7 linked regions of the Homo sapiens genome follow. The protein of the gene in region 3 purifies or fractionates together with the protein of the main gene of each other region. This does not show direct contact. Each region holds a gene or a part of one and is shown on either strand. Other genes may lie near its edges.

Evidence for each region.
Region 1: the proteins of SLC39A14 (region 3) and SLC25A15 purify together in Homo sapiens (affinity purification with mass spectrometry; one large-scale study listed by BioGRID and IntAct). This does not show direct contact.
Region 2: the proteins of SLC39A14 (region 3) and LETM1 purify together in Homo sapiens (affinity purification with mass spectrometry; one large-scale study listed by BioGRID and IntAct). This does not show direct contact.
Region 4: the proteins of SLC39A14 (region 3) and TMEM101 purify together in Homo sapiens (affinity purification with mass spectrometry; one large-scale study listed by BioGRID and IntAct). This does not show direct contact.
Region 5: the proteins of SLC39A14 (region 3) and EPCAM purify together in Homo sapiens (affinity purification with mass spectrometry; one large-scale study listed by BioGRID and IntAct). This does not show direct contact.
Region 6: the proteins of SLC39A14 (region 3) and C3orf33 purify together in Homo sapiens (affinity purification with mass spectrometry; one large-scale study listed by BioGRID and IntAct). This does not show direct contact.
Region 7: the proteins of SLC39A14 (region 3) and RFT1 purify together in Homo sapiens (affinity purification with mass spectrometry; one large-scale study listed by BioGRID and IntAct). This does not show direct contact.

Annotation. Positions count from the first base shown.
Region 1 is NC_000013.11:40,802,951-40,807,153, reverse strand, and holds part of SLC25A15 (mitochondrial ornithine transporter 1), read right to left. Parts: intron 2,037-4,203; coding exon 1,899-2,036; intron 1-1,898.
Region 2 is NC_000004.12:1,821,182-1,825,384, forward strand, and holds part of LETM1 (mitochondrial proton/calcium exchanger protein precursor), read right to left. Parts: intron 2,595-4,203; coding exon 2,463-2,594; intron 1,951-2,462; coding exon 1,807-1,950; intron 1,132-1,806; coding exon 1,000-1,131; intron 1-999. UniProt on the Homo sapiens protein: Plays an important role in maintenance of mitochondrial morphology and in mediating either calcium or potassium/proton antiport. Mediates proton-dependent calcium efflux from mitochondrion.
Region 3 is NC_000008.11:22,373,224-22,377,426, reverse strand, and holds part of SLC39A14 (metal cation symporter ZIP14 isoform a precursor), read right to left. Parts: intron 1-4,203. UniProt on the Homo sapiens protein: Electroneutral transporter of the plasma membrane mediating the cellular uptake of the divalent metal cations zinc, manganese and iron that are important for tissue homeostasis, metabolism, development and immunity.
Region 4 is NC_000017.11:44,011,862-44,016,765, forward strand, and holds the start of TMEM101 (transmembrane protein 101), read right to left. Parts: upstream 3,103-4,904; 5' UTR 3,092-3,102; coding exon 2,955-3,091; intron 2,677-2,954; coding exon 2,496-2,676; intron 1,295-2,495; coding exon 1,148-1,294; intron 376-1,147; coding exon 67-375; 3' UTR 1-66. UniProt on the Homo sapiens protein: May activate NF-kappa-B signaling pathways.
Region 5 is NC_000002.12:47,375,554-47,379,756, reverse strand, and holds part of EPCAM (epithelial cell adhesion molecule precursor), read right to left. Parts: intron 2,744-4,203; coding exon 2,680-2,743; intron 2,083-2,679; exon of another isoform or gene 1,987-2,082; intron 805-1,986; coding exon 703-804; intron 1-702.
Region 6 is NC_000003.12:155,795,859-155,800,061, reverse strand, and holds part of C3orf33 (protein C3orf33), read left to right. Parts: intron 1-4,203.
Region 7 is NC_000003.12:53,099,159-53,103,361, reverse strand, and holds part of RFT1 (man(5)GlcNAc(2)-PP-dolichol translocation protein RFT1), read left to right. Parts: intron 1-95; coding exon of another isoform or gene 96-148; exon of another isoform or gene 149-167; intron 168-3,875; coding exon 3,876-3,981; intron 3,982-4,203.

The sequences.
Region 1 (4,203 bases), on a different chromosome or scaffold from region 3:
AGACTCAACGGCATCCTTCTGTGGGAAGGAAATTTATTTACAGTAAGGAATTATCTAAACTCAGCAAACATAAAATGGCATTGTATTGCCCAGTCCCTTATCGCTGTGATTCCTATTTCCTCAATCTTTCTGGTGTGTTTTTGGGAAATTTGTTCAGGTGTTTACAGGATCTGTTTTTAGTGCAGAGAAATGAGTGAAGGAGTAAATGTTGTCTGAAGACAAGACAAATTCTGAGAACAAGTTATATAGCTCCTGTTATGCAGAAGCACCAAGAATTTATTTCTCAGAGCACCAGGGATGCGGGAGAATTTCTTCTAAGCAGCCCTGCTCCTGTAGCAGCCAGAACACAGGACACTCTTTGTCTGACTCCCCTTCATGATTGAGGGCAACCAGGGCAGGTTTATCCCTGCTAAGAACAGGCCAAGAAATCACATACTCAGTGCAACTTAGTGAATCCCTCTCTCCTCACTTTGTTCTCAGCAAGAAGGAGACTTGGCTTGGACAGATGAAGGATCAAGTCCCAAGGTAATAAAGGCCACAGACATTTAAAAACTATTTTCCTTCTGAGAGCTTCAGAAGACACTGTCAGGTATTCCCCATCAGCCAGCCCTTCCTGCAGCACTGCTACATGGAATGTAACAAAGTAATCCAGCTCAACACAATTAACCTCCCTTCCAATCCGAGTCTTAGCCCCAAGCTACCATACCATGCCTTGTGTGAACACTGCTAGACCTCAAATACAAAGTCAACTGATAATTCAAGGTGTTGATCTGCCTAAGTCCTTTGGATATAACTATTACTATCTTTTAATTACCTTGAATTACTTCCAAGGAACATGAGGGCAGCTTTCTGGGTGTTGTTAATGTTCTATTTGTTAATCTGGACACAGGTTACAAAGGCACATAAATTGTGTCACTATTTATAGAGCTGCATACTGTGACTTCAATGTGCATTCATGATACTATGTGTATTATTTCAATAAAAAGTTTTAAAGACTTACACTCTTGGACTTCTAGGCAATGAATATTAGATTCAAGTTGGCTGTAATGAATCTCAAGGGTGCAGAAAATAGGGCACTTTTCCAAACCCCATTCTCACTGAGTGGGGACTGATCCTTGAAAATGGTCAATTTATCTACTGCTTTTTCCCAGCAGATTTATAGGCTTTGAGTTAACCACAGCAATATCCTTGGTCAGAACTCAGCCAGATGTCAAGATAAGTAAGCAAGTTTTGCAATTAATAAGGATAATAAATTGCTTTCCAATTCAAGTAAATCAAATTGTGTATGAAACAGTACTCTCAAAGGATAATGAGAATGTGTTTTCAAGAGTGAGCTAGAGAGTGATTTAATCACTGAAGAGTAGCTATGCTTATAAAAGTATTGATTAATGTTCTCAGAACTTGGGCCATCTGCAGGTACACTTGAAGGACTGGGGATAAGTGGGGTAAGAATAGTTACCTCTAGGATCTGGGTCAATCAGCCTGAATACCCATACGAAACCTGAAGTGGGGATCAAATATTCATCTCAGAATCCAAATTGGCACTTATGAAGGCTCAGGTCTAAGGCAAAGTTCAAAAGCCACCCATTATGTACCTCCAAAAATGGCTGAAGATCATGCCTTATGTTTCCAAGAGGCCAAAAAGGGTGTTAAGCTCCTGGCTTCTCCAGTTCTGGGGTATTAAATATCTGTCTAAGACTTTTTATGCAGTGGGTGGTGGGTCCCATCACAGCCAATCCTTTCAGAAAATCTCTGATAGGGGAAAGCATTCTAGAAACAATATTTTGGAGTAGATAAATTGGCTTCCACATCTGCCACTTTAGTACAATGTAAAATGAAAAATCATCCAATACACTAGGGCAATAGAGACCTGACGTTTGTGCCCAAGTGGTGCTTACTTCTGGCTCTTGGCTATCTTCCCTGATGTCTCCATCTCATACATGGTCTGCAGCCGGCACTTCACGAGCTCCGTGGGGCAGAGCACCAGTGCAGCAAAGGCAGAGGCGAAGGAACCGGCGGCTGCATTCTGCAGATCACTGAAAGCACACAAGCAGACAGTTACCCCTCAGTTTCTTCATTCCTTTGGCACTCACCACACAGACAGCACTTTGGTGATAAAGCAGGGTAAGGAGCCGGGCGTGAGGGCATGAACCTGTGATTACAGCTACTTAGGAGACTGAGGTGGGAGGATCACTTGAGCCCATGTGTTCTAGGCTACAGTGCTATGACTGCATCTGTGAACAGCCACTGCATTCCAGCTTGGGAAACAAAGAGAGACCTCCATGTCTAAAAAAATGATGAAAGGGCCGGGCGCCGTGGCTCACAACTGTAATCCCAGCACTCTGGGAGGCCGAGGCGGGCGGATCACGAAGTCAGGAGATCGAGACCATCCTGGCTAACATGGTGAAACCCTGTCTCTACTAAAAATACAAAAAAAAAAAAAAATTAGCCGGGCGTAGTGGTGGGTGCCTGTAGTCCCAGCTACTCAGGAGGCTGAGGCAGGAGAATGGCGTGAACCCAGGAGGCAGAGCTTGCAGTGACCTGAGATTGTGCCACTGTACTCTAGCCTGGGCAACAGAGTGAGACTCCGTCTCAAAAAAAAAAAAAAAATGATGAAAGGAAGGAAACTTGCATGTGCTGTTTCATCTAAGGATCCCACAACCCTATGAAGCAGACAGCAGCACCCCAGTTCCCTATGGGAAGTGACACTTAGAGATGACATAATGTGGCCAGTCACACAGCTACTAAGTGGCAGTGCTAGGATGTGAACCCAGGTCTTCCTGACTGCAACAACCATATTCTTTTGATTACACACAGCGCTATGGACTGAATTTTATCCCCCCAAGGTGATGGTGTTAGGAGATGGGGCCTTTGGGAGTAATCAGGTGTAGATGAGGTCATGAGGATAGGGCCATTGTGATGGGATTAGTCCCTTAGAAGAAGAGGCCAGAGAGCTCGCTCACTCTCTGCCATATGAGGACACAGTGAGAAGACGGCTATGTTCAAATTAAGAACAAGCCCTCATCAGACACCAGATCTGCTGGAACCTTGATATTAGACTTTTCAGACCATAGAACTGTGAGAAATGTTTGTTTAAGCCACTCAATCTGTAGTATTCTGTTACAACAGCCAAAGCCAAGATACATCGTGACATGACAAAATAAAACGCCACAAAAAAACCTAAAGGAAAGGAGGAAAATATTGCCCATAGTCCCCCACTGAAAAACATGCACTATTAATACTTCAGTGTGTCTGCCCTAAGTTTTAAATAAATCTAGGTTCTAAGCCTATCCCCACATGCCCACAATCCAACCTGGAGCAACCAGATGTGCAATGTAACTGCCACAGATGAAAACCCAGAAAAAACGTTTAACCAAAAGTTGCTGCATCACAAAAAGATTTTCCAGTTCAACTGGTGACCTACCACCTCAGCAACACAGACGAGGGTAAAATGGTGCCACAGGAGTGGGTGAAGCCAGTACAAGTCTGCAAGCTCAATGGTATTAGGTGAAATTGCTAAACTGGAAATCTAAACTAGGCAGAGGGATGAATGCACAAATACAAAACAGAAGCATTCACCTCATGTATGGATTTAGTACCAGCAGCCAAATGTCACCAGCAGGGTTGTGAAACTGGAATCCAGTAAGAGTTCAAGAATATGGGGAGGCCAGGCGTGGTGGCTCATACCTGTAATTCCAGCACTTTGGGAGGCCAAGGCAGGCAGATCAGTTGAGGCCTGGCCAACATGGCAAAACCCCGTCTCTACTAAAAATTAGCCATGCCTGGTGGTGCACGCCTGTAATCCCAGCTACTCTGGTGGCTGAGGCACAAGAAGCGCTTGAACCAGGGAGGCAGAGGTTGCAGTGAGCCAAGATCATGCCACTGCACTCCAGCCTGGGTGACACAGTGAGACTCTTTCAAAAAAAAAAAAACGAATACGGGGAAAAGTCTGAGAAGTGTTTCAGAAGAAAGGCTTCTCTGCGAGTTCCTGGTTCATGGGAGTTGGGATAGAAGATCCCTTCCAGCCCTAGAAGAGTGTTGTGTCATGGGATCATGACTGGCATTTGGGGGTAGGACAATCCTTCATTGGGCAGGAAGGACTGAACTGGTTCCCTGACACCCATTCAATGCCAGCATCATGCTCTCACTGGACAGCCAAGATCACCCTCAGAGATTTCCAAAAACCCCTAAGGGTGGGTGGGA
Region 2 (4,203 bases), on a different chromosome or scaffold from region 3:
TCCCAGGTTCACACCATTCTCCTGTTTCAGCCTCCTGAGTAGCTGGGACTACAGGTGCATGCCACCATGTCTGGCTAATTTTTTGTATTTTTAGTAGAAATGGGGTTTCACCATGTTAGCCAGGATGGTCTCGATCTCCTGACCCCGTGATCCGCCCACCTCGGCCTCCCAAAATGCTGGGATTACAGGCGTGAGCCACTGCGCCTGGCCAAATTTTTTTTTTATGGCTGGGTGTGGTGGCTCACACCTGTAATCCTAGCACTTTGGGAGGCTGAGGCGGGAAGATCACTTGAGGTCAGGGGTTTGAGACCAGCCTGGCTAACATGGTGAAACCCCCTGTCTACTAAAAATACAAAAATTTGCTGGGTCTGGTGGTGCACGCCTGTACTCCCAGATATTGGGAGGCTGAGGCAGAAGAGTTGCTTGAACCTGGGAGGCTGAGACTGCACTGAGCCGAGATGGCGCCACTGCACTTCAGCCCGCGAGTTCAAGATGGAAGGTACCAGGAGGCGCCCCAGGTAGGCAGCACAGGCGCCTGGAGGCTGCACCTCACAGGCTCGCATGGGGAGTCTGAAGATGCTCCAAGCCCAGATCACCCCACAGGAGGTGACAGCAGGTTGGGCCTGTGGAGGAGGCTCTACCTTGAGGGGCCACATTGGCTTCCACACCCCTTCACTGTCTGGGCAAGCTGGCAAAGGGCCCTGAAACCTGCCGACTGGCATCTCTACCTGCCACACTGTGGGCCAGGGTGCTAAGTTCACGGCAGCGTCAGCTGCTGTGCACCCAGGCACAGTGCGGAGCCCGGCCGGACTCACTCTTTTCCTAACCACCAAGCCTCCTAGGGGCCCAGTGGCCTCATCCTCAACCCCTTGCACCATCTCCTCTCACTGAGGGCTATAGATGCCCCAGCTAACCTGTCCCCATCCCTGCCCCACAACTGTCCACAAAGCCAGGCCATGCCCTCCTCAGCCTCCAGGGCCCCAGAACCTGCCTCATTACCTTCAAGCCCTCCAGCACCGGGGCAGTGTCCTTCAAGGTCTCTGACTGCAGGACTGTGTCAGGCATTTCTGGCTGTGGCTCGGTCCCCGGCCTTTGGGGAGCAGCTACCACACGTTCGGGCTCAAAATCCTTCTGAAAGGCAAGGCGACACCAGCCCAGCGCCCGCCATCACACAGAAGCAGTCTTCTTGCTCCCCGAAGCTCAGAACATATGGCAGAGGCCACACTGGGAGCAGGCCTGCAGGTGACATTGGGCAGCACACCTGCCACAGAAGGTCCCTAGGGAGGCTCCATGCAGCTGCCAGGTCACCTGGGGCCCTCTCCAGAACAGGCTAGAGCACCTTATCCATCTCTGGTCTCCCCAAGACTCCCCCAAGCTGCCCTGTCACTTGCAGAGCAGGAGGCTGAGCCTGTGGGTGGGCACCATGCATGTGACCCAAGAGGACCACAGGGCCCGCGTTGAAGAGGAGCCCAGAGGCTGGGGGAGCCTGCAGCTCCTCTGCCAGCGCCCCTCACAGCAAGTCCCTGAGGAGAGGGTGGGCACTGCCATATGCTAAGCTTGCCCCTCTGAGACGGCTAAGGTATATCTCCCATGAGCACCACTGTGGCCATCGGGGAGTCCCCATGTCAGAGTTGCAGCCCTCACACCCGGGCACCCTGCCTCCCTGACCACTCCAGGAGGAAATAAACATGCAGGACAGAGCTGCAGGGCAAGCATGCGGGAGGCCAAGACTGTGGGCGTGCGGGGGTTTCTAGGGAGGCTGGCTCAGGACAGCCCCACGCGGCACGGAGCAGGACCACCGCTTACCGCCACCTCCGAGCGCTTCTGCAGCTCCTTCTCACGGTGCTCCTGCTGGATGGCCGCCTCCTCCTGCAGCGTGGCCTCCAGCTTGGCCTTGTTGTCCACCTGCTCGCCCTCCACCTCGGCCACTTTCACCTGTGCTTCCTTTGCCTTCAGAAGAGGGTACATCTGTGGGTGAGCCCAGAAGCCACCAGAGGCCCCTGCTGCCCCTCACCTCTGTCCTGTGTCCTGTGTCCCCTGCCCCGTCACCACCTGGGCTTCACACACACAGGACAGAAGGCACTGCCGAGGTGCTGCCCGCAATTGCTGGGAGGCCCCTGGGCCGCCCTCTGCGCTCGCCCGATGACTCCTGACATGTGGGAAGGAGCATAGGCGCTGCTGACACAGCTCCAAGGGCCGCGGCCCAGATCCACAGCAGCCAACACGTGGCCAGGTCGGGACCACTGGCAACTGTGCCACACGGGGGATGGCAGGCAAGGGGCTGGTGAGGAGGGATGGAAGGAAGGGGACAGGTGGCTGGGTGGGGGCACTCGCGAGGGGGTGGGAGGCAGGCTCCTCGCCCATGGTTGAGGAATGAGTGCGCTTGCACACCTCCCCCCACCCCAGAAGAGCGGAGCCACCTATGAAGAGATGAGGTAAAAGGGGTCTCCGACAGCACGTACCACAATCTCTGGGAGGGTCTGCAGTGTGGACTTGAGCTGGTCGGCTGGAGAGAGGGTGTCCGGGAGGTACATGGCCCGGGACAGGATGAGCAGCGATGTGGGGATCTCCTGATGCAGGTGCAGGTCCAGCCACTGCAACCAAGGCCAGGTTCAGCAGATGGGCAGCCCCCCAACCCTGCTGGCCCCACAGCAGGTCCGCCCATCTCATCACCAGAATAGCTCTCAGAGAAGACAGTGTCTCAAGTTCTACAAGGTCTGTTTGTTGCTGTGCTGCGTGACCCGATGACGGCGTTAGTAAACAAAACACCAGAGAGGCTTGGGGGTCAGCAACCCCCACAGCGAGGACCCCAAGGGCCTCAGAACAGGGCACCAACTCTTCACTTAAAAACACCCCAGGGGCCGGGCGCGGTGGCTCACGCCTGTAATCCCAGCACTTTGGGAGGCCGAGGTGGGCGGATCACCTGAGGTCAGAAGTTCGAGACCAGCCTGGCCAACATGGCGATCCCATCTCTACTAAAAATACAAAAATTAGCCAGGTATAGTGGTGTGCACCTGTAGTCCCAGCTACTTGGGTGGCTGAGGCACAAGAATTGCTTGAACCAGGGAGGCGGAGGTTGTTTCAAGCCGAAATCGCGCCACTGCACTCCAGCCTGTGTGACAGAGCAAGACTCTGTCTCAAACAAAGAAACAAGACCAGCCCAGGTCAACATATACGGGCCCGCAGAGGCAGTGTCACTGAGGCCGGTCAGCACTCGGGCCCTTGCAGGCTCTGCACAGGCCAGGTTCCGGGGCTGGCTGCTTGAGTAACACCAAGACAATCTCCAAATGGGCAAGAAAGACCGTGACAATGTTTAGAGACAAACTGAACACGGGGCAAAACATGAGAACAAACCCTAAGAGAAGAAAGGCAACGCTGAGGAGAAGTGGGTAGAGAAAATATGAGAACAAACCCTAAGAGAAGAAAGGCACCACCGAGAGGTGGGTAGAGAAGGAAAAGTGTGAACACATGACACTCGGGCCCCCAATGCGCCACACTCCCCTGGGGGCCGAGGGGCCTGGGCAGGGACAGCACCTGCCCCCCTGCTCAGACACCCCTGTGTGTGTGGCCCATATCCCCACGGAGCTCCAGAAGGCTGGGCAGAGTGCTAGGGAGGTCAGCACCCATGCCAGACACAGAGAAGGCTCTGCTGGGGAATCCGATGGAAGACGCGGCTGTGGAAGGCAGGGGGTGCCACAGGATCACGCCATAAATACTGTCTGTGTCGAGAGGAGAAGTGTGTACACACACCTTCATCTACACTTGCAGGTTGTGTGAAAAACCCGGGAGGAGGATGACTGCCAACAAGGGCATGCCAGTGCCAGGGCACCGGGAGGAAACCGGCTGGAGCCCTGCACCCCTTAACCTTTCCATGTAAGAGTGAGTGGCTGGGGCTGTCACTTTCCGACCTACAAGCCACTCAATTTGATGGCATTGGGAACCAGGCACCAGCACAGGGCGTGGCCAAGAGAAGGGGCGGCTCCAAAGTCAGACCGTGCCATGCCACCCAAACCTTCCATGGCCCCAGTTCAGAAAGAGTCAAAATGTGAACACGTCCGACATCTCAGAGGTGAACTCCAGTCCTCATCTGACTACAGATAACCAAAATAGTAAGTTATTAAGGTCTTTAAAATCAACTAAAAGCAAACAAGAAAAATCAAAGCAATATTCAAAAGGCAATGAAAGGTGCGAATGCAGGGGTGT
Region 3 (4,203 bases):
AGACCTTGGTTTCTAAACAGCATTCTCCAATAAAGGAAAGCAGGACTCCGTGGAGAAGTGCCTGACTCTAGGGCTGGGGCAGCGAAGTTACAAGATGAGCCTGGAATATTTTGTAGTAAAGGAAATTAAGGAAACACTTAAAAAAAAAAATGGCAGGGGCTTACCAGAAGAACACAGGAGACAACCGGAAGGAGCTCCCAAAATGGTCAAAGCTAGAACAATTTGAGCCTCAAAAAATATTATTCAACTTTAACCCACAGAACAAAATCTGATTATGAATAACCAAATGCATAAATAAATGGGGAAGCAGGGCCAGCTCTTGCTTACAAAGAATTCCAATAAATAAATGTACAAGAGGGAAATAGAGAATCATTAGTCAAACATCACAGTCATCATTGTTGCAAGCAGGGTCTACAGATGGGTGCTAAAATTAGGGGATGAAAGTACAAGGAGAAACAGGATTTGCATAGTCTCAAAGTATCTCCTGAAACTACAAAGGGAAAGAAAGATAACTTCTTCAGTTTATCCATTCAGTATTTTTTTTTTCCCCAGACATTGTCTCACTCTGTTGCCCAGGCTGGAGTGCAGTGGCTCCATCTCAGCTCACTGCAGCCTCCACCTCCCAGGTTCAAGCGATTCTCCTGTCTCAGCCTCCCGAGTAGCTGCAATTACAGGTGCATGTCACCATGCCTGGCTAATTTTTGTATTTTTAGTGGAGATGGGGTTTCACCATGTTGGCTAGGCTGGTCTTGAACTCCCGACGTCGGCCTTTGCCTGCCTCGGCCTCCCAAAATGCTAGGATTATAGGTGTGAGCCACCGTGCCTGGCCCCATTCAGTTTTTGTAAAACAACAACAACAGAAAACCCACCTTTTTTCAGTGTGGAAATCAAGCAGACACCAGCCAATCTAGATAAATGTCACCAGTAAAAAAATACTCCAACATGGCCGAGTGCAGTGGCTCACGCCTATAATCCCAACACTTTGGGAGGCTGAGGTGGGTGGATCACTTGAGCTCAGGAGTTCAAGACTAGCCTGGACAACATGGTGAAACCCTGTCTCTACTGAAAATACAAAAAAAAAAAAAAAAAAAATTAGGTGTGGTGGCTCATGCCTGTAATCCCAGCTACTTGGGAGGCTGAGGCAGGAGAATTGCTTGAAACTGGGAGGTGGAGGCTGCAGAGAGCCGAGATCACACCACTGCCCTCCAGCCTGTGCACTGAGTGAGACCCTGTCTCAAAATTAACAACAACAACAAAAAACTGTGACATGATGAATACCTCTAAAGGATGCAACATCACTTTGCGTTCCAACATTCTAGCAAGAAAAGAGGGAGAGACTGCCACAGATTGCAGCAAACTAAGGAGAAATAACTAAACAGTGTGGGATCCCATATCAGATCCTGGAAACAGCAAATGGACATTAGTGAAAATATTGGTGACGTTTAAATAAGGCCTGCAGTTTAGTTAACAGTGTTATGCCAATGTTGATTTCCTGCTCCTGATTATATAATTATACTCTGGGGTGAGGAATATAAAGGAATTCTGCTATATTTTTGCAACTCTTCTGTACATCTAAAATTAGTTCAAAAGAAAAGTTTAAAATAAAAGGAAATGGTTAAGCAAACTAAGATACAGCCATGGCTGGGTGCAGTGGCTCATGCCTGTAATCCCAGCACTTTGGTAAGCCAAGGCGGGTAGATCACCTGAGGTCGAGTTTGAGATCAGTCTGGCCAACATGGCGAAACCCCACCTCTACTAAAAACACAAAAATTAGCCGGGCATGGTGGTGCATGCCTGTAATCCCAGCTATTATTAGGGGGCGCTGAGGCAGGAGAATTGCTTGAACCTGGGAGGCGGAGGTTGCAGTGAGCCGAGATTGTGCCACTGCACTCCAGCCTGGGCAACAGAGTGAGACTCCGTCTCAAAAAAAAAAAAGATACAGCCATAAGGCAGAATAAATGCTTAGGGAGAAATTTTGATGTCGAGGTAAGATGGGTGTAGATAGCCAATTGTATCCCCTCCCCCCAAAAAAAAAACAACTGTAAGGAAATATGCCAATATGTAAAGAGAGACTGCAGCAGGATTATCGACTTTCCCCCAAATACTTTTTTGCACTTTACAATATGCATGCATTACTTTTAATAATCAGAAGGAAATAAAGTCGACAAAAATACCAAACAATTGTTTGGGGGAATTCTGTGTATAGTTAATCACATCTATTACAGTTTCTGGGAGAGACTTCTAAGGGCTGTGTTCAGACTGGAAAGGAGGCTGCTAGATGCTTCTGAGGGCTAAGGAAGGTGGCAGGAGGCTGGAGGAAGTGGACTGGTACAGAGGACATGGACGTGGGGCCATGGAGTTGCTCCAGATAAGAGCAGGCTGGCCAGGCGCGGTGGCTCACGCCTGTAATCCCAGCACTCTGGGAGGCCAAGGCGGGTGGATCACTTGAGGTCAGGAGTTCGAGACCAGGCTGGCCAACATGGTGGAACCCCATCTCTACTAAAAACACAAAAATTAGCTAGGTGTGGTGGTGTGCACCTGGAGTCCCAGCTACCTGGGAGGCTGTGATGGGAGAATCGCTTGAGCTCAGGAGGGGAGGTTTCAGTGAGCTGAGATCATACCCACTGCACTCTAGCCTGGGCAACAGAGTGAGACCCTGTCTCAAAAAAAAAAAAAAAAAAAAAAAGAGCAGGCTGGCAGGCTGCACCCCAAGACAGAGGGCTGCTGGCAAGTCTCTGATATGGAAACAGCTCTGAGTTCCAAGAGAACACTCGTACCTTAGACACCCGAGCCATTCAAGACTCCTAGACCCAACGTACATTTCCAGCTACCTCACTTGCTGCTCCCTCTCAGCCACTCTGGGCCACGTGTACCATCCCACCAGCATTCACACGGCTCTCCTTACCAGGACCCTGCTCTCTCTCCCGCTTCCTAGCTTTCAAGATGTGGCTCAGTCCCTCCCCAAGAAGCCTTCTCTGTCACCTCCTGCCACTCCCTCCTCTGGCCTCACCCAGTACCCCTCCTCTGTTCCACTTACTGCAGCTTCAGGAAGGCCATCCTGCATCTGACTTTCCACACATGCATAGCTCCTCACACATTTCACAAGCATCTCGGGAATGGAGATGGTACTCAGCAGCTCTCTTAGCTGAGCGCCACTGGACTGCTCAAGGACCCCAGGTCTCCAGTCCCTCCCTGCAGCCAACAGGCCCCTCGCCAGGTGGCCAACCTCCCCCCAACCCCACCACCTGCTGTCACCATTGAGGGTTCCCATGCCAACAGCTGTGCCTATTCCCAAACCTCTTTATGCAGGTTCTATTTATTTAAATGATTATGATTTATTTAAATAACAACTGAGGGCTGGGCACGGTGGCTCACGCCTTTAGTCCCAGCACTTCAGTCCCAGCACTTCGGGAGGCCAAGACCGGTGGATCACTTGAGCTCGAGTTCGAGACCAGCCTGGCCACCATGGCGAAACCCCATGTCCACTAAAAATACAAAAAATTAGCTGGGCGTGGTGGCGCGTGTCTGCATCCCAGCTACTTGAGAGGCTGAGGCAGAAGAATCACTTGAACCTGGGAGGTATAGGTTGCGGTGAGATTGCGCTACTGCACTCCCGCCTGGGTGACAGAGAGACACTCTGCCTTGGAAAAAAAAAAAAAAACGAGAAAACAAAAACAAAAAACCCTGAAGAATAAATGCAAAGAAAAATGTCTGACTTCTGAGAAATTTAAGCTAAGTGATCTCGAACAGTAATTCTGAAATTACTGTCTTATATGACACCTGGGGTCCCTGAAGTAAAAGACTATTTTTATTCTAATATACAAAAATTAAAAGCTTTTCACTCTCACTTTTCAGAAGCTACATGAAATGTGACACGTACCTGTGTCATCTTGAGTCTTTGAGAAATTTCTAAGGTAGAAGTTTAGGGTATAATATAATATATAGGTGGTCTCAGAGATTAGCTCAATTTGTTCTCAGAACTTTTAACTGACTTCTTAACAGCAAATTTAAGTTACACCTATTATAACCTGTTATCTCATTATCATCCAATAAATAATTATTTTAAAATCCTGAAATTTCTAAAAATATGCTAACAAGGCCATTCTTTTGACTACTTTATTTTGGAAAATATAGTTATTTTTCATGAAACTTTTTTTTTTTTTTTGAGATGGAGTCTCGCTCTGTCACCAGGCTGGAGTGCAG
Region 4 (4,904 bases), on a different chromosome or scaffold from region 3:
GCAAGGAGGAAGGCAGGGTGACCCTCAGTGGCTCCCTGTGCCCATCTCAGCCTCTTGCCATAAAACTCAGCCATCAGTGGCCAGGATGACAGCAGTTCCGAAGATGCCCACACTCTCTCCAAGGAGCTTCATCTGGTTCCAGAACTCAACACGCCGCGTGTTGTGCCAGTAAGCAACATTGCCATCAATGAGCAGCATGACAGGGGGCAGCAGTACAGCCAGGATCTGGGCAGCGAGGGTCACGTAGTAGCCTGACAGAAAGGCCAGGGCCAGGATGCCATACAGCACGAAGAACAGCTGGATCATCAGCTCCCCTCCTGGGAGATGGTTCAGATACGCCAGCCGGTCCTCCTTGCTGTGCTGCAGTGAGTAGGCCTGGAGACATAACATCCTCTAAGACTCTCCAACAGGCTCAGAAGCCTGTCTGGGGTAAACCACCCCTGAGATGGCACCTGCAAATGAGTCCCTGCAGATGGGCTTCTGACTCCCCTCTTGGACTGGGGAACCTCTGAAAGTAGGGCCTTTGTCTCCCCCTCGGACTATGGAGCCCCAGGAGATTAGGGCCCATGTCTCCCCTCACCCTAGGGGCTATGAAGGAAGTGTATTTCCACAGTCAGACTAGAGCTCCCACCTCTGAATATGGGAGCCCACACAGAGAGCTGTACAGAGATATACTCGGTAATTAAGATAAGACCTAATGGCCTGGCGCCTGTCCATGTCTCCAGTCACCCTGGCCTCCCCTAGCACCAGGGAGAACCATAAGTGGCTACCCTAGAGCTCTCATCAGCTCTAGGGGGCAGAGTCCCAGCTGGGGCCTGACCCCCACCAAACCTCTCCTTTATCCCCTTCTAGTCCTTTGGGGGCTGGAGCCATGAGAGAATCACCCCATCTTGTTCTCCTGGCTCTCAGGGTTGAAATTTAATGGCCAGTCTACCTCGTGGCAACACTGTTGGAGGAAGGGCCTCTCAACAGGCATTTGGAGGGCCCCTGAGGCCTAGAAGCTGGCCAGGGCAATTCCCAGGGAACTGGGCCATCAGGAACTGCACTCAGGGCCTCGTTCTGTGTCTACCTTCCTGGGGTTCTGCCATGCCTAGACTCACAGTTCACTCCCAGCCAGGCACCTCCAACCAACAGTCCCCCAACATACCACACAGATGAGGTAGATACCCAGGAACACCTGGCCGGTGGACTGCAGGGAGCGGCTGCGAGGTTTCCGGCGGTACAGCTCCCCAGCACCGCTGGCCAACACAAGAAAGCCGCCGATGATGGCAACTGTGCGCGAGTACATACGGACCTAGGCCGGGGTAAGGGGACCCCAGTCAAGAACTGCAGCCGCCACATCTCTCCTGGCTTCCCAGAGTGTAGAACCACCCCTCTCTACACATCCCATTCCATCTGATGAACCCTCTTACATTTCCAAGCTTGGTGGGCAGGTGCAACAGAGACAGATCATTCTTTTTATATATATATAGAAGTAGAAACTGAGGCCCAGAGGGTTAAGAAAACTGTCAGGTCTGGCCAGGCGCAGTGGCTCACGCCTGTAATCCCAGCACTTTGGGAGGCCGAGGCAGGTGGATCACCCTGAGGTCAGGAGTTTGAGACTAGCCTGGCCAACATGAGGAAACCCTGTCTACTGAAAATACAAAAATTAGTCGGGCGTGGGGAAGGGCGCCTGTAATCCCAACTACTTGGGAGACTGAGGCAGGAGAATCGTTTGAACCTGGAAGGCGGAGGTTGCAGTGAGTTGAGACAGCGTCACTGCACTCCAGCCTGGGCGACGGAGAGAGACTCTGTTTCAAAAAACAACAACAAAAAAGAAAACTGGCAGGTCCTACCTGCCAGTAAGTGGCAGAACCCAGACACAATGTGTTTCTCCCTTCCCCACTCTCAGATCTGTAGACTCTAATCTTGGTGTTCTTTATTCTACATGGCATGGGATCTATGCCACAAAAACATTGATCTTGCTGCCCTGTAGCTGTTCACACATCTTCCTCCCCTAAGGGTCTGACAGTCTCTTCCTCAAGGACAGTGCCTTTGTCCAACCTTATCTCCAGCCTGCAGGGCCTGGCACAGGTTCTGGCTTAAATGCTATACTAACAGTAATTACATTTTCATAAAATTTATTTTATGAAAACTAGGTACTCTCCAAGGTCCTTTGTACCCCATGAGTCTGAGATTACTAAACTAACAGTTTAAAAGATTCTGGGAACCAGGTGACCGGGGTTCTGGTCCCACCAGTATCCTGTATTGTGGCTTTGGGAAAGTCTGTTTCCCATCTCTAGACCTCAGTTTCCACACTTTGAAGAGGAAGTTTGTGTGGTCTCTAAGATCCATTTCTGCGCTCTGTAATCTCCATAAGCCAAGGGGTTCGAACCTCCCAGGCTTCACACTGTGCAGCTGGCCAGCACCATTCATCGCCCACCAACAGCCCTGGGCATTGGCCTCTGATTCCCCGTCACCCAGAGGGAAGACCCTTTTGGGGCCGAGGCGCTCACCTTCAGCCAGTCCCCGTAGTGGACGTAGCCCCCGATGTAGGCGGCGTAGGTGCTAATGGCCAATTGGAGTGCGGCCCCCAGCGCGAACCAGCGCCGCTTCACGCCAAAGGACATGAAACTAGCGCACAGCACGGCTGCCCCCATGTCGAAATACAGGTAAGGCACTGGGATGTCGGGCTTCCTGCGAGCCGGGAGTGGGGAAGCAACGAGGACAGAATGAAGCGGTGGGGGAAGAAGCTTGAGACCCCTTGAGTTCCCACAGGCTCCACTGCTCCCCCAAACCAGACTCCCCTCCCATGGGCAGGACCGCCCTACCAGATTTGGTCCGACACCCAGACCAGAACCCCTCCCAGGGAGGTCCCAATTCCTCCCAGTTCAAGGGTCCCGACTTCTAGCCCCCAATTTCTTGCCCACATCACCGCCCCCTGCCGCGTTTAGCGGCTGCGTAGGCCTGCTCACCGGCGTGCCTCAGCCCTCTCAGCGTACAGCATGAGCTGGCTGAAGCAGCCCCAAAAGGGGCAGCGTGTGAGCAGCACCGAACCCAACTGCATGATCAGCTGCAACATCCACCGTCTCGAACCTATCTTCGACGCCATCTTGGGAAAGGGCAGTCCGCTGCGGCCTCACCCCAGTCAGAGAAGCAGGCGCGGGGATGGGACACGCAGCTTCCGGGTCAAGCGCTTTTTCTTTTTCCTCCCGGAAACAACGGTGTCATTCTCTAGTTCCGGATCTAAGGTGACCCAGTTGCGAAGTCCAGCCTTCTCGTCTGCTCATGGAGCCTTCAGGGCCATATTTGTCCCTGCGAATTTGAAAACTAGACTAGAGGAAGGAACAGTGGGTTCAGGATAGCAGAAGTCTTGGACCGTAGTATGATGTATTGAAGCAAACTGGTCTTTGAATGCAGCCCGATCAGGGCCCTAATCCTGATTCCAACCCTGTGTGATTCTGGGCACATCACCTAAACTTTATGAGACTCATCATGAAATGGGGATAATTACACCTACCTCAGAGTTGTGAACTTTTTTTTTCTTTTTTTTTTGTTTTGTTTTGTTTTTGAGACGGAGTCTCACTCTGTCGCCTAGGCTGGAGTGCAATGGCACGATCTTGGCTCACTGTAACCTCCGCAACCTGGGTTCAAGCGATTCTCCTGCCTCAGCCTCCTGAGTAGCTGAGACTACAGGCTCTCGCCACCACGCCCGGCTAATTTTTTGTATTTTTAGTAGAGACGGAGTTTCACCGTCTTAGCCAGGATGGTCTCGATCTCCTGACTTCGTGATCCGCCCGCCTCGGCCTCCCAAAGTGCTGGGATTACAGGCATGAGCCACCGCGCCAGGCCAGAGTTGTGAACTTTAAATGTGACAAGGTCGGTCCTAGTACATAGTAGTGGTTCAATAAATGATACACATAACGCACCAGAGGAAACCCCCGTTTCTGTTAAGATCAAAGTAAGGGGTCCTCCTGGCTCAAAGTCACCTCTTTGGGTTTGCCTTTTGCCTGTGCCCTGAGAGAAAAAGGAGATCTGAACATCTGGGACATCTCAAGTCAGTCCATTTCTCCAGCTGCCATGCTCCCGCTGTAACCCAAATTGTCATACTTTGTCAGTTTAATTGCAGCAGACATCCAGGTGGTCTCTGCATTCCCCTCCAGTGTGTTCTCAGCCCCTTCTCCCACGCCCCACCCGTTTATATGTTCTCATAACATCAGCTACCTTCCTTTGAATCACTTGGCACGGTGGCAATTAGATAGATAGATAGATATAGATACACACGCACACACACACACACACACATATATATATATCTGCTTTACATATATATGCTTTTTTTTTATTTTTGAGACAGGGTCTCACTGTGTCACCCAGGCTGGAGTGCAGTGGTGCGATCTTGGCTCACTACAGCCTACACCTCCCAGGTTCAAGCGATTCTCCTGCCTCAGCTTCCCAAGTAGCTGGGATTACTGGCGCTTGCCACCACACCCGGCTAATTTTTATTTTTAGTGGAGACAGGGTTTCACCATGTTGGCCAGGCTGCTCTCGAACTCCTAACCTCAAGCGATCCAACCGCCTTGGCCTCCCAAAGCGCTAGGATTACAGGCGTGAGACACCGCACCCAGCCAATATATTTGTGATTGTTTTATTGACAATCTTCCCCTACTAGATCGCAAGCTCCCTAAGCACAAACACGGTGCCTGGGTTTCTGTTTACTGTTTACAGATGCTCCTTGACTTGTGATGGAGTTATATCCTGATAAACCCATCATAGGTTGAAAATACTGTAAGTTGAAAATGTGTGGCTGACTGGAAGCTGTGGCTTGCTGACACTGCCCAGCATTGTAAGAGAAATACAGTTTCCACTGAATGCAGATCTGCTTTCGCACCAATGTAAAGTTGAAAACTCCAATGCTGGGAACC
Region 5 (4,203 bases), on a different chromosome or scaffold from region 3:
GGAGAAAAGGAATTAAAAATATTTAAGGAAACCAACCATGGCCACATATAATTACATACAAATTGTATGCCAAAAGAACCGCTGCCAAGAATCTTTATGGTTTTAGTGATAACAATCTAATTTATTGGAACTTTAAAAAACTGTTTATTACAGGAACCTTTCAACATACACGAAAGTAGAAAGAGTAGTGCAATGATGCCCATGTACCTATCACCCAGATGCAAGGCCAACAACACATAGCCTCTCTTACTTCATCTTTTCTTCCTTTCATCCTTTCACCCCCGCCCAGATTATTTTGAAGCAAACCTCATATTTCAGCAGAAAATACCTCACTATAATATATTAAAGTTTCAACAAAATATTTTAATCATATCAGTTACAGTCTTTTTTAACAGACTTTTATTTGTGTAAATTATAAATATCATAGGGGAGCATATATGCACAAACTAAGTAACCACCAAGTAGATAATAAATAAGAATTATAAGAAAGAGGGGAGATATTTTAGGCAGAACAATTTGATAAGAGGCATAAATATACAAACAAGCAAGATGCATGTGAGTGACAGGGAGGACAAAATTAACGGCAGCAGCGAACCATTTGGTTGATCTGTAAGTGGATAAAAAGGTGATGAAATATATTTAATTCATTGAGGCATGATAGACTACATTCCTGAACACAGGAATAAAGAAGATGATACTCACATCTTTTTCAAAATAATAAGCCACATCAGCTATGTCCACATCATTCTGAGTTTTTTGAGAAGAATTTTGAACCAGATCAATAGTGATAACATTATTCTCATACTGGGGAAAAAAATTGAATAATACAAATTAATACTAATATAATCAAAATCATTTGAAAATAACATTAATTGAGAATCAGAATATTCAGTGTTTGATTTTCTATAATCTACATGCATCACTGTTCCTTTCCATTAGTGGATAACTAAGTTTATCACTAATCAAGAAATCTTTGGGAGGTCTCTAAATCTATCAAAGGGAAATAAGACAGCCATGCAACCAAACATAATTACAATGTACAATTTTTCCTAAGAGGATTTTCTTATATTGAAAAGATTTTTAAATAAGATATGAAAGTATTTTATTTGGATTAGAACTACTTTAAAACTAAATTACTAAAGAAATGAAAGGTAAGGCCGGGTGCAGTGGCTCATGCCTGTAATCCCAGCACTTTGGGAGGCTGAGGTGGGCGGATCACCTGAGGTCCGGAGTTCAAGACCAGCCTGACCAACATGGAGAAACCCCATCTCTACTAAAAATACAAAATTAGCCAGGCGTGGTGACACATTGCCTGTAATCCCAGCTACCAGGGAAGCTGAGGCAGGAGAATCGCTTGAACCTGGGAGGCAAAAGTCGTGGTGAGCCGAGATGGCGCCATTGCACTCCAGCCTGGGCAACAAGAGCGAAACTCCGTCTCAAAAAAAAAAAAAAAAAAAGAAAAGAAAAAGAAATGCAAGGTAAAACGCAGCATGCATTTTCCATGTTGTTTTTTTGTTTTGTTTTTGAGACGGAGTCTTGCTGTGTCGCCCAGGCTGGAGTGCAGTGGCACAATCTCAGCTGACTGCAAGCTCCGCCTCTCAGGTTCACGCCATACTCCTGCCTCAAGCCTCCCGAGTAGCTGGGACTACAGGTGCCCACCACCACATTCGGCTATTTTGTATGTTTTTAGTAGAGACAGGGTTTCACTGTGTTAGCCACGATGGTCTCGATCTCCTGATCTTGTGATCCACCTGCCTCGGCCTCCCAAAGTGCTGGGATTACAGGCGTGAGCCACCGTGCCCGGCCATCATTTTGTTTTTAAAGAGTAAAAAAAGTACATTCTTTCTAAAGACTCTTGAATAAATTCATACTACCTTTAAAGAGTTCCGTCACACTATTCAAGCTTCTTTTTATTTTTTAAACCAGAGTTTAAAGAGTTAAGTAAGGGCTAACTAGTTAAGGACTAGTTCCTTAAAGCAGAGAAGATGGGAGCTCCAGTAACATCCTAAAGTAAATATGCACCAAAACTGTATTTACCAAAAGTAATTTTGGTGCATATTTACTTTAAGATGTTACTGGAGCTCATCCACAGGGACAGGTTCTCCAGGATAAGAAAACTCAAATGTTTTAGGGATACTAAGAGATACTACGTTTTCTTTAGGAGTAAAACTAGGCTTTTCAAAGGCTATGGAAGGAAAACAACGATAACCAAAAACAATGGGCCGGGCGTGGTGGCTCACACCTGTAATCCCAACACTTTGAGAGGCTGAGGCAGACAGATCACTTGAGGCCAGGAGTTCGAGACCAGCCTGGCCAACATAGCAAAACCCCGCCGACACTAAAAATACAAAAATTAGCTGGGCATGGTGACATGTGCCTGTAGTCCCAGCTCCTCGGGAGGCTGAGGCATGAGAATTGCTTGAACCTTGGAAGCAGAGGTTACATTGAGCCGAGATCTTGCCATGACACTCCAGCCTGGGGAAGAGAGCAATAGTCTGTCTTAAAGAAACAAACAAACAAAAAAAAACAGTAACAGGAAATTCACATTAAGTACCCAGATCCGAAACTGTTGCTCCAGTAAGTGCATTTAACCACCACTTAAATCACTGGCTGTCCTTATACTCAAAACATACTGTCTCACCAACTGTCTGCTAAAGCTCACTTATTAAAAAATCATACCAAAATACTCGTGATAAATTTTGGATCCAGTTGATAACGCGTTGTGATCTCCTTCTGAAGTGCACTGTAAAGAATTTAAAATCTGTATTAAAAAAAAATGTTTGTACCACACAACAGTAAGAAGCACTACTCTTTAAGCAGACAGCTCAGGGTCTAAAACTGTCATTAAAGTTAAAATTTTTCTGCCATTTTGCAACTATCATAATAATAATTGATTCAGGCTGGAATCATCCATTGATATTCAAACTGCTGGGTACCAGTTTAATTAGAAAAAGAACATTTACTTAGTATCCAAGTATCTGCCCATAGATTATTTATGGATTACAAAGGGAGAATGGTAACTTCACAGTGGAAAAACCTGGTGGATACCACTTTAACCAAAGTTTACTTTACTAGTAAAGGGACAAGCTGACATCATGCAACTCCTAATGTGAAGTATTATAAAGGACACAAGATCGCTTAAGTAGTTTTCCTGTCAAAAATGCATAACCTGCTTTTAGTTAAGAGGGAACATCAAGGCTCGGGTGAGGTGGCTCATGCCTGTAATCCCAGCACTTTGGGATGCTGAGGTGGGCAGATCACCTGAGGTTGGGAGTTCGAGACCAGCCTGACCAACGTGGAGAAACCCCGTGTCTACTAAAAATACAAAAAAAATTAGCCAGGCATGGTGGCGCACGCCTGTAATCCCAGCTACTCAGGAGGCTGAGGCAGGAGAATCGCTTGAATCCGGGAAGCAGAGGTTGCGGTGAGCCGTGATTGCACCATTGCACTCCAGCCTGGGCAACAAAAGGGAAAACTCCAACTCAAAAAAAAAAAAAAAAAAGGAGGAAATATCAGACAAATCAAAATTTGAGGGACATTATATATAATGACTTGCCCATGCTCTTTAAAAATAGCAAGTTCATGGAAGACAAAGAAAGGCCAAGAAACTGTTCGATATTAAGAGACTAAAGAGTCATGACAACTAAATGTGATACATGGATCTTGGACTGGGTCCTGAATCAGAGGGGAAAAATTACTACAAAGGACAATATTGGGAAAATGGGCACAACGTGATATAACGTTAAATTTCCTGGCCGGGCGCGGAAGCTCACACCTGTAATTGCAGCACTTTGGGAGGCAGAGGCGGGAGGATCACAAGTTCAGGAGTTCGAGACCAGCCTGGCCAATATGGTGAAACCCTGTTTCTACTAAAACTACAAAAATTAGCAGGGCGTAGTGGCAGGCACCTGTAGTCCCAGCTACTTGGAAGGCTGAGGCAGGAGAATCGCTTGAAACCGGCAGGCGCAGGTTGCAGTGAGCTGAGATCACGCCACTGCACGCCAGCCTGGGTGACAGAGCGAGACTCCGTCTAAAAAAAAAAAAAAAAATTTTTCCTAAATTTGATCGTTGTATAGTGGTTTATATAAAAGAATGCCTTTTGTTCTTAGGAAAACATACACTGAAGTACTTAGGGGTAAAGGGGCCTGATGTCTACAACTTGCTCTCATGTGCTTCTGGGAAAAATATTTATACATGCATAGA
Region 6 (4,203 bases), on a different chromosome or scaffold from region 3:
TAGTTATTTTAAAATGTACAATAAATTATTGTTGACTGTAGTCACCCTGTTGTGCTACCAAATACTAGATCTTATTCATTCTATTTAATTATATTTTCATACCCATTAACCAACCCCACTTCTTGCTCATCCCCAGCTACCCTTCCCAGGTTCTGGCAACCATTATTCTACTCTCTGTCTCCATGAATTCAATTTTTAAATTTTTTAGTTCCCTCAAATAAGTGAGAACATGCAAAGTTTGTCTCTCTCTGCTTGGCTTACTTCACTTAACATAATGACCTCCATTCCATCCATGGTGTTGGAAACAACAGTTCTGTTTAAGGATGAATAGTATTCTACCATGTATATGTACCATATTTTCTTTTTTCTTTTTTGAGACAAGGTCTCACTCTGTCACCCAGGTTGAGTGCAGTGGTGTGATCATGACTCACTGCAGCCTTGGTCTTGCGGGCTCAAGCGATCCTCTCATGTCAGCCTCCTGAGTAGCTGGGACCACAGGTGTGAGCCACCATGCCCAGCTAATTTTTGTACTTTTTGGAGAGACAGGGTTTTGCCATGTTACCCAGGCTGATCTCCAGCTCCTGGGCTCAAGTGATCTGCCTGCCTTGGCCTCCCAAAGTGCTGGGATTACAGACATGGTCCACTGCACCCAGCCCACATTTTCTTTATCCATTCGTCTGTTGATGGACACTTAGGTTGCTTCCAAATCATGGCTATTGTGAATAGTGCTGTGATAAGCATGGGATTAAAGGTATCTCTTTGATATACGGATTTCCTTTCTTTTGGTATATATCTAATAGTGGAATTGCTGGATCATATGGTACTTCTATTTTTAGTTTTTTGTGGGGCCTCCAAACTGTTCTCCATAACGGTTGTAATAATTTACATTTTTCACCAACAGTGTACGAAGGTTTCCTTTTCATCCTTGCCAGCGTTTGTTATTGCCTATCTTTTGGATAAAAGCCATTTTAATTGGGATGAGATGATATCCTATTGTAGTTTTGATTTGCATTTCTCTGATGATCAGTGATGTTGAGCACCTTTTCATGTACCTGTTTGCCATTTGTATGTCTTCTTTTGAGAAATGCCTATTGACATCTCGTGACCATTTTTAAATGAGATCGTTAGATTTTTTTTCCTGTAGAGTTGCTTGAGCTCTTTATATAATCTGGTTATTAATTCCTTGTCAGATGGATGGTTTGCACATATTTTCTCCTGTTCTGTGGGTTGTCTCTTCACTTTGGTAATCGTTTCCTTTGTGGTGCAGAAGCTTTTTAACTTGATATGATCCTGTTTGTCTATTTTTTCTTTGGTTGCCTGTGCTTATGGGGTATTTTTCAAGAAATCTTTGCTCAGTCCAATGTCCTGGAGAGTTTCCCCAATGTTTTCTTGTAGGAGAGTTATAGTTTGAGGTCTTAGATTTAAGTCTTTAATGCATTTTGATTTTATTTTTGTATATGATGAGAGAGAGAGGTCTAGCTTCATTCTTTTGCGTATGGATATCCAGTATTCCCAGCATCAGTTATCAAAGAGACTGCCCTTTCTCCAACTTATGTTCTTGGCACCTTTGTTGAAAATGAGTTCACTGTAGATGTATGGATTTGTTTGTGGGTTCTCTATTCTGTTCCATTGGTCTATGTGTCTGTTTTTATGCCAGTACCATGCCATTTTAGTTACTATAGCTCTTATAATTTGAAGTCAAGTAATGTGATTGTTCCAGTTTTGTTCATTATACTCAGGATAACTTTGGCTATTCTGGGTCTTTTATGGCTCCATAGAAATTTGAGGATTGTTTTTTCTGTTTCTGTGAAGAATGCCATTGGTATTTTGATAGGGATTGCATTGAATCTGTAGATTGCTTTGGGTAATATGGGCATGTTAACAATATTGATTCTTCCAATCCACCCATGAACATGGAAAATTTTCTCATTGTTTGTACCCTTTTCAATTTATTTCATTAGTGTTTTATAGCCTTTTTTTTTTTTTTCTTTGAGACAGACACTTGCCCTGTCACTCAAGCTGGAGTGCAGTGGTACAATCTTGGCTCACTGAAACCTCCACCTCCTAGGTTCAAGCAATTCTCATGCCTCAGCCTCCCAAGTAGCTGGGATTACAGGCATGTGCCACCATGCCCGGCTAATTTTTGTATTTTTAGTAGAGACAGGGTTTCACTATATTGGCCAGGCTGGTCTTGAACTCCTGGTCTCAAGTGATCTGCCCACCTCGGCCTCCCAAAGTGCTGGGATTACAGGCATGAGCCACTGTGCCCAGCCAGTGTATTATAGTTTTCGATGTAGAAATCTTTCACTTCTTTGGGTAAATTAATTCCTAGGTATTTAATTTTATTTCCAGATATTGTAAACGGGATTACTTTCTTGATTTCTTTTTCAGATTGTTCACTGTTGGCATGTAGAAATGCCACTGATTTTTATATATTGATATTGTATCCTGCAACTGTACTGAATTTATTTATCAGTTCCAATAGTCTTTTGGTGGAGTCTTTAGGTTTTTTCGAATACAGATCATATCATCTGCAAACAAGAAAAATTTAACTTCTTTTTTTGCAGTTCAGATGCTCTTTATTTCTTTCTTTTGTCTGAGTGCTCTAGCTAGGACTTCTAATACTATATTGAATAACAGTGGTGAAAGTGGGCATCCTTGTCATAGTCTAGATCATAGAGGAAAGGCTTTCAGTTTTTCCCCATTCAGTGTGATACTAGGGCTGCGGGTCTGTTGTGTATGGCTTTTATTGTGTTGACGTATGTTCCTTCTGTAGCATTTTGTGAGGGTTTTATCATGAAGGAATGTTGATTTTATCCAATGCTTTTTCAGCATCTATTGAAATGTTCATGTTTGTATGGCTTTTGTCTTTTCTTTGAGATGGAGTCTCTCTCTGTCACCCAGGCTAGAGTGCAGTGGTGTGACCCCGGCTACTGCAACCTCCACCTCCAGGTTCAAGCAATTCTCTTCAGCCTCCCAAGTAGCTGGAATTACAGGCACCCACCACCACGCCTGGCTAATTTTTGTATTTTTAGTAGAGGCGGGGTTTTGCCATGTTGACCAGGCTAGTCTCGAACTCCTGACTTCAGGTGATCTGCCTGCCTTGGCCTCCCAAAGTACTGGGATTACAGTCATGAGCCACCATGCCAGGCCTGTCCTTCATTTTGTCAATATGATGTATCACATCGATTGATTTATGTATGTTGAACCATCCTTGCATCCCTGGGATAAATCCCACTTGGTCAAAGATCTTTTTAATATGTTGTTGAATTTGATTTGTAGGTATTTCTTTGAGGATTTTTGCATTAATGTTCATCAGGGATATTGACTTGTAGTTTTCTTTTTTGATGTGTCTTTGTCTGGTTTTGGTATCAGGGTAATACTAGCCTTGTAGAATGAGTTTGGAAGTATTCCCTCTTCCTCTATTTTTTGAATCATTTGAGTAGGATTGGTATTTATTTTTCTCTTAAACGTTTGGTAAAATTCAGCAATGAAGTCATTGAGTCTTGGGCTGTTCATTGCTGGCAGAGTTTTTATTACAGCTTTGATATCATTACTTTTTATTATGGCTTTGTTTTCATTACTTGTTGATCTGTTCAGGTTTTGGATTTCTTCATGTTACAATATTGGTAGGTTGTACATGTCTAGGAATTATCTATTTCTCTAGGTTTTCCAACTTATTGGCATATAGTTGTTCATAGTAGCCTCTAATAATCTTTTGAATTTTTGTGGTATTGGTTGTAATGTCTCCTTTTTCATTTCTGATTTTATTTATTTGAGTCTCCTCTCTTCTTTTCTTAGTCTGGCTAAAGGTTTGTCGGCTTTGTTTATCTTTTCAAAAAAGCAACTTTTCATATCCCTAATCTTTTGTATTCCTTCACTGCAATTTCATTTATTTTTGCTCCAATCTTTATTATTTTTTTCTTCTACTAATTTTGGGTTTGGTTTGCTCTTGCTTTTCTAATTCTTTTAAATGGATTCCTGTTTGCTTTTCTACTTTTTTGATGTAGGTGCTTATAGCTATAAAATTTCCTTTTAATATTGCTTTTGCTGTATCCCATGGGTGTTGATATGTTGTGTTTTCATTATTATTATTATTATTTTTTTAGATGGAGTCTTGCTTTGTTGCCCAGGCTGGAGTGCAGTGGCATGATCTTGGCTCACTGCAACCTTTGCTTCCTGGGTTCAAGCAATTCTTCTGCC
Region 7 (4,203 bases), on a different chromosome or scaffold from region 3:
GACTTCATCAATTTCAAAATGTGCTGGGCTGTAAGCTGGCAGTCCATTTGCAGTGCTTCATCTTGGGTTTAGCAAAGATGTTTTTAATTTCTCAGGTCGCTGGACAAGAACGCTGAGGACTTCTTTCTGCTGCCCCATCTCAATATAAAGGGCTTTGTCAAATGCCATTTTACAAGTTCACTAGCATGTTTTAGTCTCCACTACAATGGGGCCCAAACTTTTGGTGTTAGGGGAGGAAGGGCCAGGTTTCTATACCAGAGCAAAGGTCATTAAGTTTGGAGAAACACCTGCTGTGAAACCAGTGAAGTGGTTTGCAGCTCCCTGGGGCTTGTGCTGTGAGAAGTGTATTTCCATCTGGCAGCTGTGGGGAGGCCTCATGAGGAAGGCATTAGTAAGTTTATGGGCAGAGATTGGGAACTCGACTATTCTGTAGCAGCTCTTCCCCTTTAGAAAGCAATCACCAAGGAGCAGCCTCTAATGTCACACAATCACAGGGCGTTGCCTCAAGGAGGGGGCTGTCCCATCATTATCATGACTCAGCCCATCATCTTAGTTTTGAAAGTGGAACTCGCAACACTGCTGTCCCCAGTTGTGTACTTGTCTTTGTCTTCACCCTGGAAGTGGACTACTTACCTGTGAGCTGTACTGGCCATCTCCAGATGTGGGACTCGGACACAGCACGGACAGGCTTTTGTGTAGGGGTGTGGCTTCTCTTCCGTTGTTTGGGATTAGCCCTGCATTTAATTAGGGTCTTTGTAAGTGTTCTAGAGGCTTTTCTTAGAAATCCTTCTCACACCTAGCTTTGCTTTGCTTTTTCTTTTCTTTTCTTTTTTCTTGGTAACTCACAGAACAACACCTAGCTTTTCTATCCTTAAGCAAAACCCACACATTCACAGAATTTCCCCAAGATTTCTTACATTTCTCTCTTAGGTGCTTCTCTCTTGTCCCTCTGCCTTTTACTTTTTTCCTTCTCTATCCCCTTGTCTTAATGAACTAGGGCTGCCATGACAAAGTACCACAGACTGCGTGGCTTTAAACAACAGAACATATTGTCCGTCAGTTCTGGAGGCCAGAAGTGCACAATGAAGCTATGGCCAGGGCCGTGTTCTCTCTGAAGGCTCGAGGAGAGGCCCCTTCCTACCTCTTCTAGTTGCTAATGGTTGCTGGCATCCTGGCGTTCCTTGACTTGCAGCTGCAGTACTGCGGTCACATGGCTGTGTTCTCTCTGTCTTCACGTCATCATCCCCCTTGCGCTCTTCACGTCATCATCTCCCTGCACGTGTCTGCCTCAATGCAAGTTTCCCCCACTTTTTTTTTTTTTTAGTGAGATGAAGTCTCACTCTATCACCCAGGCTGGAGTACAGTGGTGTGATCTCGGCTCACTGCAGCCTCCACCTCCCGGGTTCAAGAGACTCCCGCCTCAGCCTCCCGAGTAGCTGAGATTACAGGCACACCCTACCACACCCGACTAAGTTTTTGTATATTTAGTAGAGACGGGGTTTCGCCATGTTGGCCAGGCTGGTCTCAAACTCCTGACCTCAGATGATCTGCCCCCCTTCAGCCTCCCAAAGTGCTGAGATTACAAGCATGAGCCACTGCACCTGACCAAGTTTCCCCTTTTTATAAGGACACCTGTCATATAGGATCAGGGCCTGCCCTAATGACCTCATTTTAACTCAGTTTTCTTCATGAACACCCTGTTTCCAAATAAGGACAGATTCTCAGGTACCACTGGTCAGGACATTAACATATCTATTTTGGGGGGACAGTTCAACTTAAAACACCCCTCAATTCAGTCTACAATCGAAGGTTGGTTCCATTCTTGAATTCCCCAAATGGACACAAAACCCTTTACGTGAGTCACTGATTGGTGCCAGAGTTTGTGTTCTCCATGCCTCACGACAGCCCACTGTTCACCTACTGATGGGCCCTCCTGTGCCATTAGCGTTCAGTTACCACGTAAGGAGGCCCCCCACTCTTCTCTGCTTCTGCCAGGGAGAGGAGGTTGGGGAGAAGCAGGAGGCACACTTGAGCATAGCCTTGAGCCTCCCGGGTGCAGAGCCTGGTCCCCGCCTCCCTTCCTGGAGTCACCGTCAGCTGGGGTGGGGGCCAGGCTACTTCCTGCAGCGGCTTGACAAGCAAAATGCAATGTGAGGTGATAAACATGGAATCTGAGACAGGGCCGTGGAAAACGGTTTTTTGTTGAGCGTCGGGGCTGCCCTGTTAGTATTCCTTTTATAATTTTGTGACTGCCATAAAACTGTTTAGGGGTCCCACAGCATGGAGATCTTTTGTATTAAACAGCTTTCATAAACCCTGAATGAGTTCCAGATTCTGAGACTCCGGAACTTCAGTCCCCCTCCTTTTCTTTCAGTGGTTATGTGTTTTTTTTGGGAGTTTTTTTTCTCCCTTTGTTGAGGTATAATTTACATAAAGTAAAATGCTGTTCTCTTAAGAGTACAGTTTGGTAAGTTTTGACAAATATGTACAAAAAATCCCATGTAACTACCAAACAGATTCAGACATAGAATATCTCCATTTCCCCAGAAAGTTCTTTTGGGACCCTTTCTAGTCAACTACCCCACTCCACCTCAGAGACAAAGAGAAATCAGAAGAAATCTGATTTCTATCACCATGGATCAGTATTTCTTTTAAAAGTAATTTTATATCAATGAAATGCAGCATGTGCGCTCTTGCATTTGGCATATTTCCTTCAATATAAAGTTTTTGAGATTCTTCCATGGTTTCGCATGGATCAGTGATTTTTATTATCTTTTCTTGCTAAGTATTCCTTTGTGTGGATGGCCCACGTTTTGTTTATTCTTTCTTCTGTTGATGGTCAGTTTTGGCTATTATGAATCAAACTGCTACAGATGCTTTTGTGTAAGTGTTTTTGTGAACATGTGTGTTCATTTCTGTTGGATATATACCTAGGGGTGCAATTGCTGGGTCGTAGGTTAGGTGTTTGTTTATTTTATTAGGTGCTTGATTATGGCCCTCTTAAAAGGGGGGAATCAATCCCATTTGTAAGCCTCCTGTTCTCTGCTTAGAAGATTTTTCCGAAGCTTGTTAGCTATAGAACTGCATTACTTTGTTTTAGAAGAAAATACTATTATGGGCACTGGTTCTCACTTTGGATTTGTGTAATTTTCTGCTGGTCCTGGGCCCCTGGCTTTTGTTAAAGGTCTTTTCTTCAGGACCTGCTCAACTGAGATTCCCTTAACATGCAGGGTCACTACTGACTTTGAGTCCAAACCAGCAGGCCTATTCATGCTGATGAAAAAAGGGAACAGACTTGCTTGCTAGCCAGATAAGCTTTTAGTTGTCCAGCAAGAGATCTGTACATTTATTCATAATTGTTCTTTTTTGTGTGTGTGATAAGGTCTTGTTCTGTCACCCAGGCTGGAGTGCAGTGGCACTATCATGGCTCACTGCAGCTCTGACCTCCCCAGACTCAGGTGATCCTCCCACCTCAACCTCCCGAGTAGCTGGGACTACAGGCATGCCCACCACACACAGCTAACTTTTGTATTTTTGGTAGACACGGGGTTTCATCATGTTGCCCAGGCTGGTCTCTAACCTCTGGGCTCTAGCAGTCTGCTGGCCTTGGGCCTCCCAAAGTGCTAGGATTACAGGTGTGAGCCACCGTGCCCAGCCTGTCATTTTGTTTTTTGCTGATTATTTAGTCAATGCCATAGAATGTTGGGAATCCTTCTAGATTATTAAGACCCTGGGCTCTAGCATGCAGTCTGCCCATTGCTGATACCAGCAGACCTCATAGTCTGGTTCTGGTTCTCTGGGTACTCAGCAGCACTGAGGGTACATGTGGGCCTTCTGATTGGGCTCTGGAGTCTCAGTGAGTTGTTTCCTTGTAGGTCCTGTTTTGCTGCGTTCCTACTGTCTCTATGTTCTCCTGCTTGCCATCAATGGAGTGACAGAGTGTTTCACATTTGCTGCCATGAGCAAAGAGGAGGTCGACAGGTGGGTAACCTAGCAGGTACACCTTTAATCATGGCCTTCAGCCAAAATGAAATAACTTGTCAAGCTTTTTGCTTTTCGTTCTGAACATGCATTTACAGATGGCTGTTTTAGAGGCAACACTTAGTCCACCAGTGTGGTGCTCCCCTGGGATCTCTGTGGCACCAGCATGGTTCAGCAAGTGCTCCCCACTGTAGGGCTGGGAGGCAGCAACTACTCTTTGCC